2 separate regions of the Homo sapiens genome follow, and region 2 is linked to region 1. The links come from fine-mapping of genetic effects on gene expression. A gene starts in region 1. The other region holds a variant in brackets. All regions are shown on one strand. Distances are from middle to middle.

Region 1 (4,380 bases):
TTGGAATTCTGTCCTCACTAGAGAGGGTAGAAATGAACACACAGATAGACAAAAAGACATACAAGCAAAGAGATGCAGGTTCTCAGAAACCCCCAGTGAGGAACTGGCATACAGATCCAGGATCACAGACACACACACACACACACACACCTGTTCCGCCGCAAACTAACAGACACATGAATTAATGGACACACCCAGGAGGACCTGGTCACAAATACAGAGACTGAAACTCAGACGCATAGAGTAACACAGACACACAGAATTACACAGACACAAGCATATTTACAAACATGCTCAGGCAGATACCCGCCACGAATAGGAAGAGACACAGACCTAGAGTCAAGTGACACAAATACTCAAGAGACATGTAGAGTACAACAGGTACTCACAACCCCGAACGTTCAGACTGACATAGAAACACAGGCACAGAACACCTCCGATCATCACGGACCCACAAAGGGCCTCCAGCGAAGACCAGCCCACCGTGTCTGGCACGCACTCGCGAGCGGGCGTTCGCGGGTGTGGCCGGCAGCAAATGGAGAAACCCTTGGCAGCGCCCGGACGCCCTCCAGTGGCGGCTCCTGAGAACCGGGGACAGTTCAATCCGGGCCACAAACTTTTTTAGAACAAATCATTGTGGGAAGCTGGGAGGAGAGAGAGAGAGAGGAAGTCGGACGTGGGCGAGGGGCGGGGTGTCTGGACTGGAACCTCTGGGCCCACGTGAGTGTCTGTCCCGCTGCTGAGTGGGTGCTGTGTGTTTGGGTTGCTGTAGTGTTCGCTTGTAGTGCAACTATCCTGTGTTATCTTTATTATTCGATGCCGCCTGCCTCTGCGGACCGTAGTGGGCACATCTACACTGCAGCGGGGTGCCTTACCCAAAGCAGATCGGAATTGGGGCCGGGCGCGGTGGCTCACGCCTGTAATCCCAGCACTTTGGGAGGCCGAGGCGGGCGGATCACTTGAGGTCAGGAGTTCGAGACCAGCCTGGCCAACATGGTGAAACCCCGTCTCTACTAAAAATACAAAAATTAGTCGGGCATGGTGGCGGGGACCTGTAATCCCAGCTACTCGGAAGGCTGAGGCAGGAGAATCGCTTGAACACGGGAGGCGGAGGTTGCGGTGAGCTGAGATAGAGGCCCTGCACTCCAGCCAGGGTAACAAGAGCGAGACTCCGTCTCAAAAAAAAAAAAAAAAAAAAAAGAACAACAAAAAAAAGAACTGGATGCGTCTGATCTGACGCACGCCTGTTTGTTTACGACTGCGGGGTGTGCCTTTGTCTGAGTAGAGATAGTGTGTGGCTTTTGCGGGCTTAACGTGTGGCTCAGGAGGCAGTGGGAGTCTGCATCATGTATCCCGATTGCGTCTTACTCGAGTTTTGTTTTGAGTTAGAGGCGACAGGTGGTGCAGCGTTAGACACTGGGAAGCTCTGTGGCTTTTGTATTCCTGAGCGCGAAGGTTAATGACGGATCCGTGGGGTTGAGCTTGTCGGTACAGACGCCAGACAGCCCGATTTACGGGAACAGCCGATTAGAGGATTCGGGAGAGCGGTCGGTGAACTTCTGGATGTCTTTCGGGAGGGGAAGGCTCTATGGTCGCGTGCAGAGCGCCCGTTCCACGTCAGGTACCCGACCATAGAGCAAGGCGGCCGCGGACTACCCAAGGGAAGGGGAGGCCGTGTCCTTTACAACTTGCCTCCCGTTGTTAGTCTAGTTTCTATAGCCAAACCTTCGGGACTCTCTCAACTCAAAATTTTGCTTTTCCTAAAGGCAACTGGGTTCCTTCCAGATTACGAACTGTGTATCCACTTAATCTCTATTTCGTATACCTCCTCCTACAGCGAAATTTGTGAGGCAGTCCTCTGAAGCACGGCCAATCTGGTGAACTTTTCCTAAAATGAGCCATCGCTACCAGCTTTAGTGAGCTAAGACAATAACTGCGATTGGTGGGCAGATTGTTTTGAAACCGCCCTAACGGCAAGGGGCGGGCTCCTGGTGAATTCATCTCTTTCCGGTTTCTTAAAGGCAACAGGAAGGAGGGGTTTCTGCCGACCCTCCATTTGATTGGTTCTAGTGGTTTTACCCGCTCGGACTCCTCAAGGGGCGGGAGATGTACACCAATCGGAATGTGTGTTACAGAGACACTTAGTTTGATGAAAGGACTGCGCAGGAAAGGCCGTGGGACACTCATTCTGAGATCTTACCGTTGATTGGACCAAATTGTTACTCCCTTATTTTCATTGGACCTTACGGCAGCCGGCGCGCGAGAGTTACCCAATCAGCAAGCGCTCCGCCTCCTGCCTTTTCCCGCCCTCCGCTCCGGCCTCGGCTTCGACGTAGGCCAACGCTTCCTCCCCAGTAGCTCCTAGGCCTTCTCGTGGCCGTTGTTTTGAAAACGGCGCTCTGATTGGCTAGGTTTCCGGGCCCGCGCCCGTTGCCCCACGCACTGACCAATTGGCACTCATGTAACATCGGACGAGGCACGAGTGAGGGGGGAGGCGGTGGCGGCGGCCATTTTGAGCCGCTGCCGCCATTGGAGTGGGCCCCCCCCCTTTCCCCCTTCGCCTCCTGACAGGAAAGGTTTAAGGGGGACAGAGCCCTGGGAGGCCGGGCCGGGCTCGGGGGCCACCCCGGGGGCCCGGGCCATGGATGTGCGCCGTCTGAAGGTGAACGAACTTCGCGAGGAGCTGCAGCGCCGCGGCCTGGACACTCGAGGCCTCAAGGCCGAGCTTGCTGAGCGGCTGCAGGCGGCGTTGGAGGCCGAGGAGCCTGACGACGAGCGGGAGCTCGACGCCGACGACGAACCGGGGCGACCCGGGCACATCAACGAGGAGGTCGAGACCGAGGGGGGCTCCGAGCTGGAGGGGACCGCGCAGCCACCGCCGCCCGGGCTGCAGCCGCACGCGGAGCCCGGCGGCTACTCGGGGCCGGACGGACATTGTGAGAGTGCGCGGGGCGGGGGCCGGGGAGCCCGGAGCCTGGGCCGAGGAAAGGGCTGTGGGACGCGGGAGTCCAGCGCCTGAGGTCGGGGAGACGACCTGAGGATCGGGGGATCCCGCTACCCGCCGCCGAAAAGGATCTGGGGACCAGGGCCCCAGCACGACCGGAGGGTGGATCCTGACACTCAGTGCAGGGGGGACACTGGGGGAGGGGCCTCTGGGTTTCGGAGGTGAGGGACGGGGGTGGCGGGGAGGATTCCGTACCGTAGGGATCGGAGACCGGAAACTGCTTTCTGGAGCCGAAGAGAGTCGGAAGAACAAGAGGTTTTCCGTTTGGGTTGGGGAGGGTCTCGAAAATGGGGATCCTAGGGTACGGAGCTCCGTGGGCTTGGCGGTCGTGCTAGCCCAGCGTGTGGGCTGGGGGGTGGGGAGCCGTGTTTCCAGGGTGGGGAAGGAATGTCCAGGTGTGCGGGGCTGCGAGAGTTCTGAGGAAGGAGGATCCTGGAATATGCCGCTGGATGCGATCCTGGGCGTTCTCCTATTTGGGTACGGGGGTGGGTGGGAGAGGTGGAGGCGCTGGTGTCTGTGGCTGGGGAGGGTCCTAATGGACTCAGTGCTTTGGAGTTTGGCTAGTGAGCATTTAGGGGCTGCGGGAGATTGAACTAGGGGGCACCCCCATCTCTCTTCCGGGGCTGGAAGGCCACCCTTGAAGCAGGCACAGCCTGGACATTAGGTGCTGGGAGATCTGGGGACTTTCTGGTTGGCTTCTAGAAGAGGTATAGGGAGCCCTGGTGTCCAGAGGCTGGCGGGGGAGAGGATGCTTTCCTGGACAAAGGATCTGGGGGTCTAGAGCTAAGAAAACTGAGGGCAAATAACTCTTGAGGCTGCTGCTGACTGGTCTGGAGCTAACTGTGGGGTTTTTGGAGAACAGAGGGTAGCTGGGGGTGGGATGGGGGCAGATGAGTTGGTAACATTCCAAGTGGATGAAATATGTGGCGGGAGACAGAGGATCCTGTGTCCAGCACAGGAGTACGTATCTGGCTTAGCGAATATGGGGAGGGGGGAGGCCGTAGGGAGCAAAGAGAAAGAAACCTGTTGACTTCACTGGAGGCCTCAGAGTGGAGTGTGGGGAATGTTTCTGGACCTGAGCGTCTCCAGGAGAAATCTCGACGGTTCCCAGAAGCAGTTATTTGTGTACCCAGGGAGTGGGGGCCCTCGGGGAGCAGCACGGAACTCTTCATCAGCCAGGAGCTGTGACTCTGGGAATGGGTTCGGGTAGACCTGCGGTTGTCTGAGGAGAGGAAAACCTGATATGGGACGGCGTGAATCTTCAGTTAGAAAAAAAGCAGCTTTCGGGCCGAGTGCAGTGGCTCACGCCTGTTATTCCAGCACTTTGGGAGGCCGAGGCGGGCGGATCACGAGGTCAGGAGTTCAAGACCAGTCTG
Region 2 (4,380 bases), 44 kb after region 1:
ATTTCAAGAAGTGCCGTGTACCTTGCTCCCTGGGGGTCTCAGAGCTGGGGTTAGAGTCCACATCACAGCCCTGGGGCTTGCCCTTCATCCTGCCCTACCATGGCATGGAGCTGGCTCTCCTCCTTCTCAGCCCACAAACAATGTCCACTAGGCAAGGGAAGGGCCCCTGTGGGCCAACCACTTAAAAAGGCCCTTTTTCCATCCCAGCATTTCACATCTGCAGATTTCCTCTATTTCACAGAGCTTTGGCTTTTTTCCCTCCACTTTCCAGCCGAGTTACAGCCAGCCACCCTACAACCAGGGAGGTTACAGCCAGGGCTACACAGCCCCACCGCCTCCACCTCCACCACCACCTGCCTACAACTATGGGAGCTACGGCGGTTACAACCCGGCCCCCTATACCCCACCGCCACCCCCCACTGCACAGACCTACCCTCAGCCCAGCTATAACCAGTATCAGCAGGTAGGTGCCAGACTGGGGGCCAACTGGATGGAGAGACTTCCATGGGCCCCTCCTGGGTGTGTATTCCCAGACTTAAGTCCCTGCTTATCCCTAAAAAGACAGCCTGCTGGCCTCGGCCTGGCGTTCATCTGGTGCAGCCATTCCATTTGGTCAACACTTCTGCACTGGTTGCTAGGTAATTGGTATCCTAGCCCCCTCCACAGTCTAGCAAGTGAAGGGGAAGGGCTGGCCTAAGTACCAGGGGCCTCAGAGTCCTCTTTCAGCACCATAGACAGGGGGCTCCAAATCCTGCTGCAGGTTGGTGCCCAGGCCCCCATACCTGTTACTAAATCTTTTGACTATGATATCTAGCTATACCCAAAAGGCACTGGGTTGACAAGCTGAGACCTGGGCTTCAGTCCCTAACTGCCTACCTGTGTGGTGTCAGGTCTTTCCAAGGTGCCTTGATTTCTCTGTCAGGGGACCTGTGTTCAACTGTTGTCACTGCAGCTGTCTCTGCCCTAGGTGAGGGTGGGGCTGGTGGGGAGGCTAAATGTGTGGTGGATGCAGGACAACTTGGTGTTCTTGGTTTCTTTCCCCAGTATGCCCAGCAGTGGAACCAGTACTATCAGAACCAGGGCCAGTGGCCGCCATACTACGGGAACTACGACTACGGGAGCTACTCCGGGAACACACAGGGTGGCACAAGTACACAGTAGCCAGTGTGACCCAGAGGCTCCCGGAGGCCCCTGCCGGCTTCCTCCACCAGCGCCTGCCTCGGCCCCTCCTCTGCCCCCGCCAGATCCCGTGGTGCTGGGGATGGGGTCATCCCAGGGCTGCCTCCCTCCAGCCCACTGCCTCCCCTCTGAGGGGCTTCCTTCCCCTCCATAGGGCCAGGCATTTTTTTCTGGATTCAAACAGGCAACAATGACCTTTTATTTTCTGTTTGTCCCCACCTCCCCAGCCTTCCACCTCCTGTTCTTCCTACCTTCTTCCTTTTTGACTAAATAATCCCCACCTCCCTTGATCATACAGTGAGGCTACAGTGACTGAGGGGAGAATCCCCTCCTGTTCACTCTCCCAACCCTGCTCCAGCCCCTCAGCTTCCCAGACCCTCATGCAGTTGGTTGTAAATTCTCCCAGGAGCTGTTTTACTGTCTACTTTTCAGGATTAAAAAAAAAATCAAAACTTAAAAAAAAAAAAGTTTAAAAAGCAAAATGGGGAGGGGGAGGAAGCAGTGACTTTTTTTTGGTAATTATG[C/T]GCTTTTTTTTAATTTTTAGAATTTGTCTTTTTACTGTGGGTGGGCTGTTGATATTTCATCAAGATAAGCATTTCTTTCCTGAGTTCAGGTGACTGAGGAAGAGCCACAAAACAAAACACAACAAAACCAAACCACAGAATCATCTTTAACCCAACTTTTTATACGATGCCCCAGTTCCCCATAACTTTGCACACAAGCTTCTGTGTTCAGTTGAATTGTAACTGCTTTTTGTATTTGGAGAGAGTGACTATTGAACTTGAAACCTTTTATTCCGGGCGTCTTGGTAGTTTCTGGTGGGATTCAGTGGGTGAGAGGGAAGAAGGGGAGGTTGGGGGGCTCCTTCCCTTCAGAACTTGAAGTTTCTCCCACTGCCTCCTCTCCAGTGGTCTCCCAGGTGCCAGACCCAAAAGCTTTTCCTACAGTGATACCCTTTATTTTTACTTCCCCTTGACTCATATGTTTTAACATGATTTTAACAAACTGCACTTATTAAGAAATGTGTTTGCCCTGTTTTGTTTGGTTTCGTTTTGTTTTCTTTGAATAAATGACATGGCACCTCCTAGCAGGAAGGAAGCAGGGTTGAAACCCTGAAGTGTTACTGCAGTTGGCCGTTAATTGGGGTGGGGGCCTCTTTAAAGGGAAATTATTTACTCATTCATTAAACAACTTAACTGAGGGATTCATGTGCCTGGCCCCGATTTTGGTGCTAAAAATGCACGCTTAAACAAGGGTCCCTGGTTTAAAATCCACTAGTTCATTTTTAAAGTGCTTCTCTTGTTCTCTACCTCTCACAGTCTAAAATCCCTCCAGGAGTTTTTGAGTAAAGGACATGGAACAGGCCTCTAGGTGGAGGGATGGGTGGGACTGATGGGGCAGAGACCAGGGCTGGTTTGTTTGGCATCATCACTGGGCATCCACAGACCACCTGCCTCAGGCCTGGCCTGTGTGCAGCACGGAGGACAGTTCCTGCCTGTTCTGTGTTTGGGGCTCATGGGGATTCCAGGAGCTTCATGTTTCAGCCAGTGTGTGTGAGCCACCTGCTGTGTTCTTCAGCTGTCCTGGACAGTGCTGGGGACATAGTATGGCCACGGCAGTCCTGGACCCCGTTCTCACAGAGCTCCCACTCCAGAGAGAACAAAGACCTGCCAGCACCAAGTGGTCAGCTGTGAGAGCCTGGGGTGGTGTGCAGGGAGGGCTTCCTGGAGGAGTGAGCCAGGGTAAAAGACTCCAGATTGCATCCCCATGGCCCATCTTCCCCTTCCTTAGCAACCTTATGTCTTCGTTCCCTCATACATGCTGTGTTCCTGGCTCCTTGTGAGAGACAATGCTGGGCCACAGGAGAAGCCAATTCAGCCCCAATCTTCCCTGGTGGGAGCTCAGAGCCTTGTGAAGGGGAGATGGGCAACAAAAACAAGGGAGGGAAACTGACTAGTCTCAGAATCTCGGGTAGGGCATCAGAACGTGAGAAGGAACCAAGGTTGGTGGCTAAAAGGGACCCTAGAATGCGCCAGAGAGGAGGTGGCAGGGCCTTTAGTCTGGAAAGTCCCCTTCCCTTCATGTCCATATGCTGGGCTACAGCGCCCTCTGCTGGCCTCTCCTGGTAATGCCTAGGAATCTGGGTTGGTAAATAGGGACCTCCTTGGCTTTCTTCCACAACTCCAGACCTCAAGGGAATGCAAATGGGGAAGCTCTTCCTCTGTTCTCAGCCAGTTTTTCTCACACGTCTCATCTCCAGTCCCTTGATGCCCACTCCCTTCAGAATAAAGGAGGTCAAGCCACTTACTATGGCTTATGAGGCCCTGCATGGCCTAGCACCTGGTAACATCGCTGGCGCCCTCTCTTTCTGCTCCCCCTTTGAATATCAAATCAGTGTTTATTTTGTTCTGAGGAGCCATAAGTCCTTTTTGGAACCCACAAATGATGCCATGAACCACTGCATTGGAGAATACAGAGGTACATGGAATTTTGCATAAAAATTCATGAGGTTCTCAAAACCTCCACAGCCCAATCATGGCTTTCAAGTTAGAGCTCCTTTCCTATGCCCTGACCGTAGTGAAGTGCTTGCAGCAACCAGAACCGTCCGTACGTGCCATCCTCCTCAAGACTCTTCCCTACCTTCCTCTTAACCCAGCTCCTACTCGTTCTTCAGGTCTTAGCTTGAGGGTACCCTCCCAGAAAGAAGGCTTCCTTGACCCTCCAGCCTGGGGTGGACAGCTCCCTCAGCCCTCTGGATCCATCAAAGCCCTGGCCACTGAGTGACATGTCTGTCTACTCTGCTGGTAACACCTAAATAGAGCCCCACCCATCCCATAGGGAAATAAGGACCAGAGTTGTCTTGTTTCACACCTGTAGATTTCCTCCAGGTCCTGGGAACACAAAATGGGAAGTTCTATCTCACTATCCATCTCATGCCAGCCAGAGACAGGGTATGATGACGGAAGTAAGCCAGGCTGGTGGCTCACGCGCGTAATCCCAGCATTTTGAGAGGCTGAAGCGGGAGGATTGCTTGAGGCCAGGAGTTGGGGACTAGCCTGGGCAACAAAGTGGGACCCCTGGCTCTACAAAAAAATTTTAAAAATTAGCCGGGCGCGGTTGTGCGCGCCTGTAGTCCCAAGTACTCCAAAGGCTGAGGCAGGAGGATCACTTGAGCACAGGAATGTGAGGTTACTTGAACTG

The links. PIP is the estimated chance that this variant, and not a neighbour inherited with it, causes the effect.
Region 2: its variant is fine-mapped to the expression of HNRNPUL1 in whole blood (TOPMed, PIP 0.91).

The regions. Positions count from the first base shown.
Region 1 is chr19:41,261,863-41,266,242 of GRCh38, forward strand. It overlaps HNRNPUL1 (heterogeneous nuclear ribonucleoprotein U like 1), which reads left to right and starts at 2,510. Exons shown (of 15, transcript NM_007040.6): 1 at 2,510-2,936. The coding sequence starts at 2,642. RefSeq lists enhancers at 416-465, 496-585, 942-1,481, 1,482-2,021, 2,022-2,560 and silencers at 2,566-2,805, 2,896-2,965, 2,986-3,035.
Region 2 is chr19:41,305,405-41,309,784 of GRCh38, forward strand. HNRNPUL1 (heterogeneous nuclear ribonucleoprotein U like 1) reads left to right here. Exons shown (of 15, transcript NM_007040.6): 14 at 272-463; 15 at 1,045-2,383. The coding sequence ends at 1,161. LOC105372401 (a long non-coding RNA gene) reads right to left here. Exons shown (of 2, transcript XR_935968.4): 2 at 2,135-4,380. Among named protein-coding and RNA genes, the nearest start is that of CCDC97, 2.6 kb to the right of the region's middle. RefSeq lists an enhancer at 3,361-3,540. The variant C/T (reference allele first, on the strand shown) is at 1,704.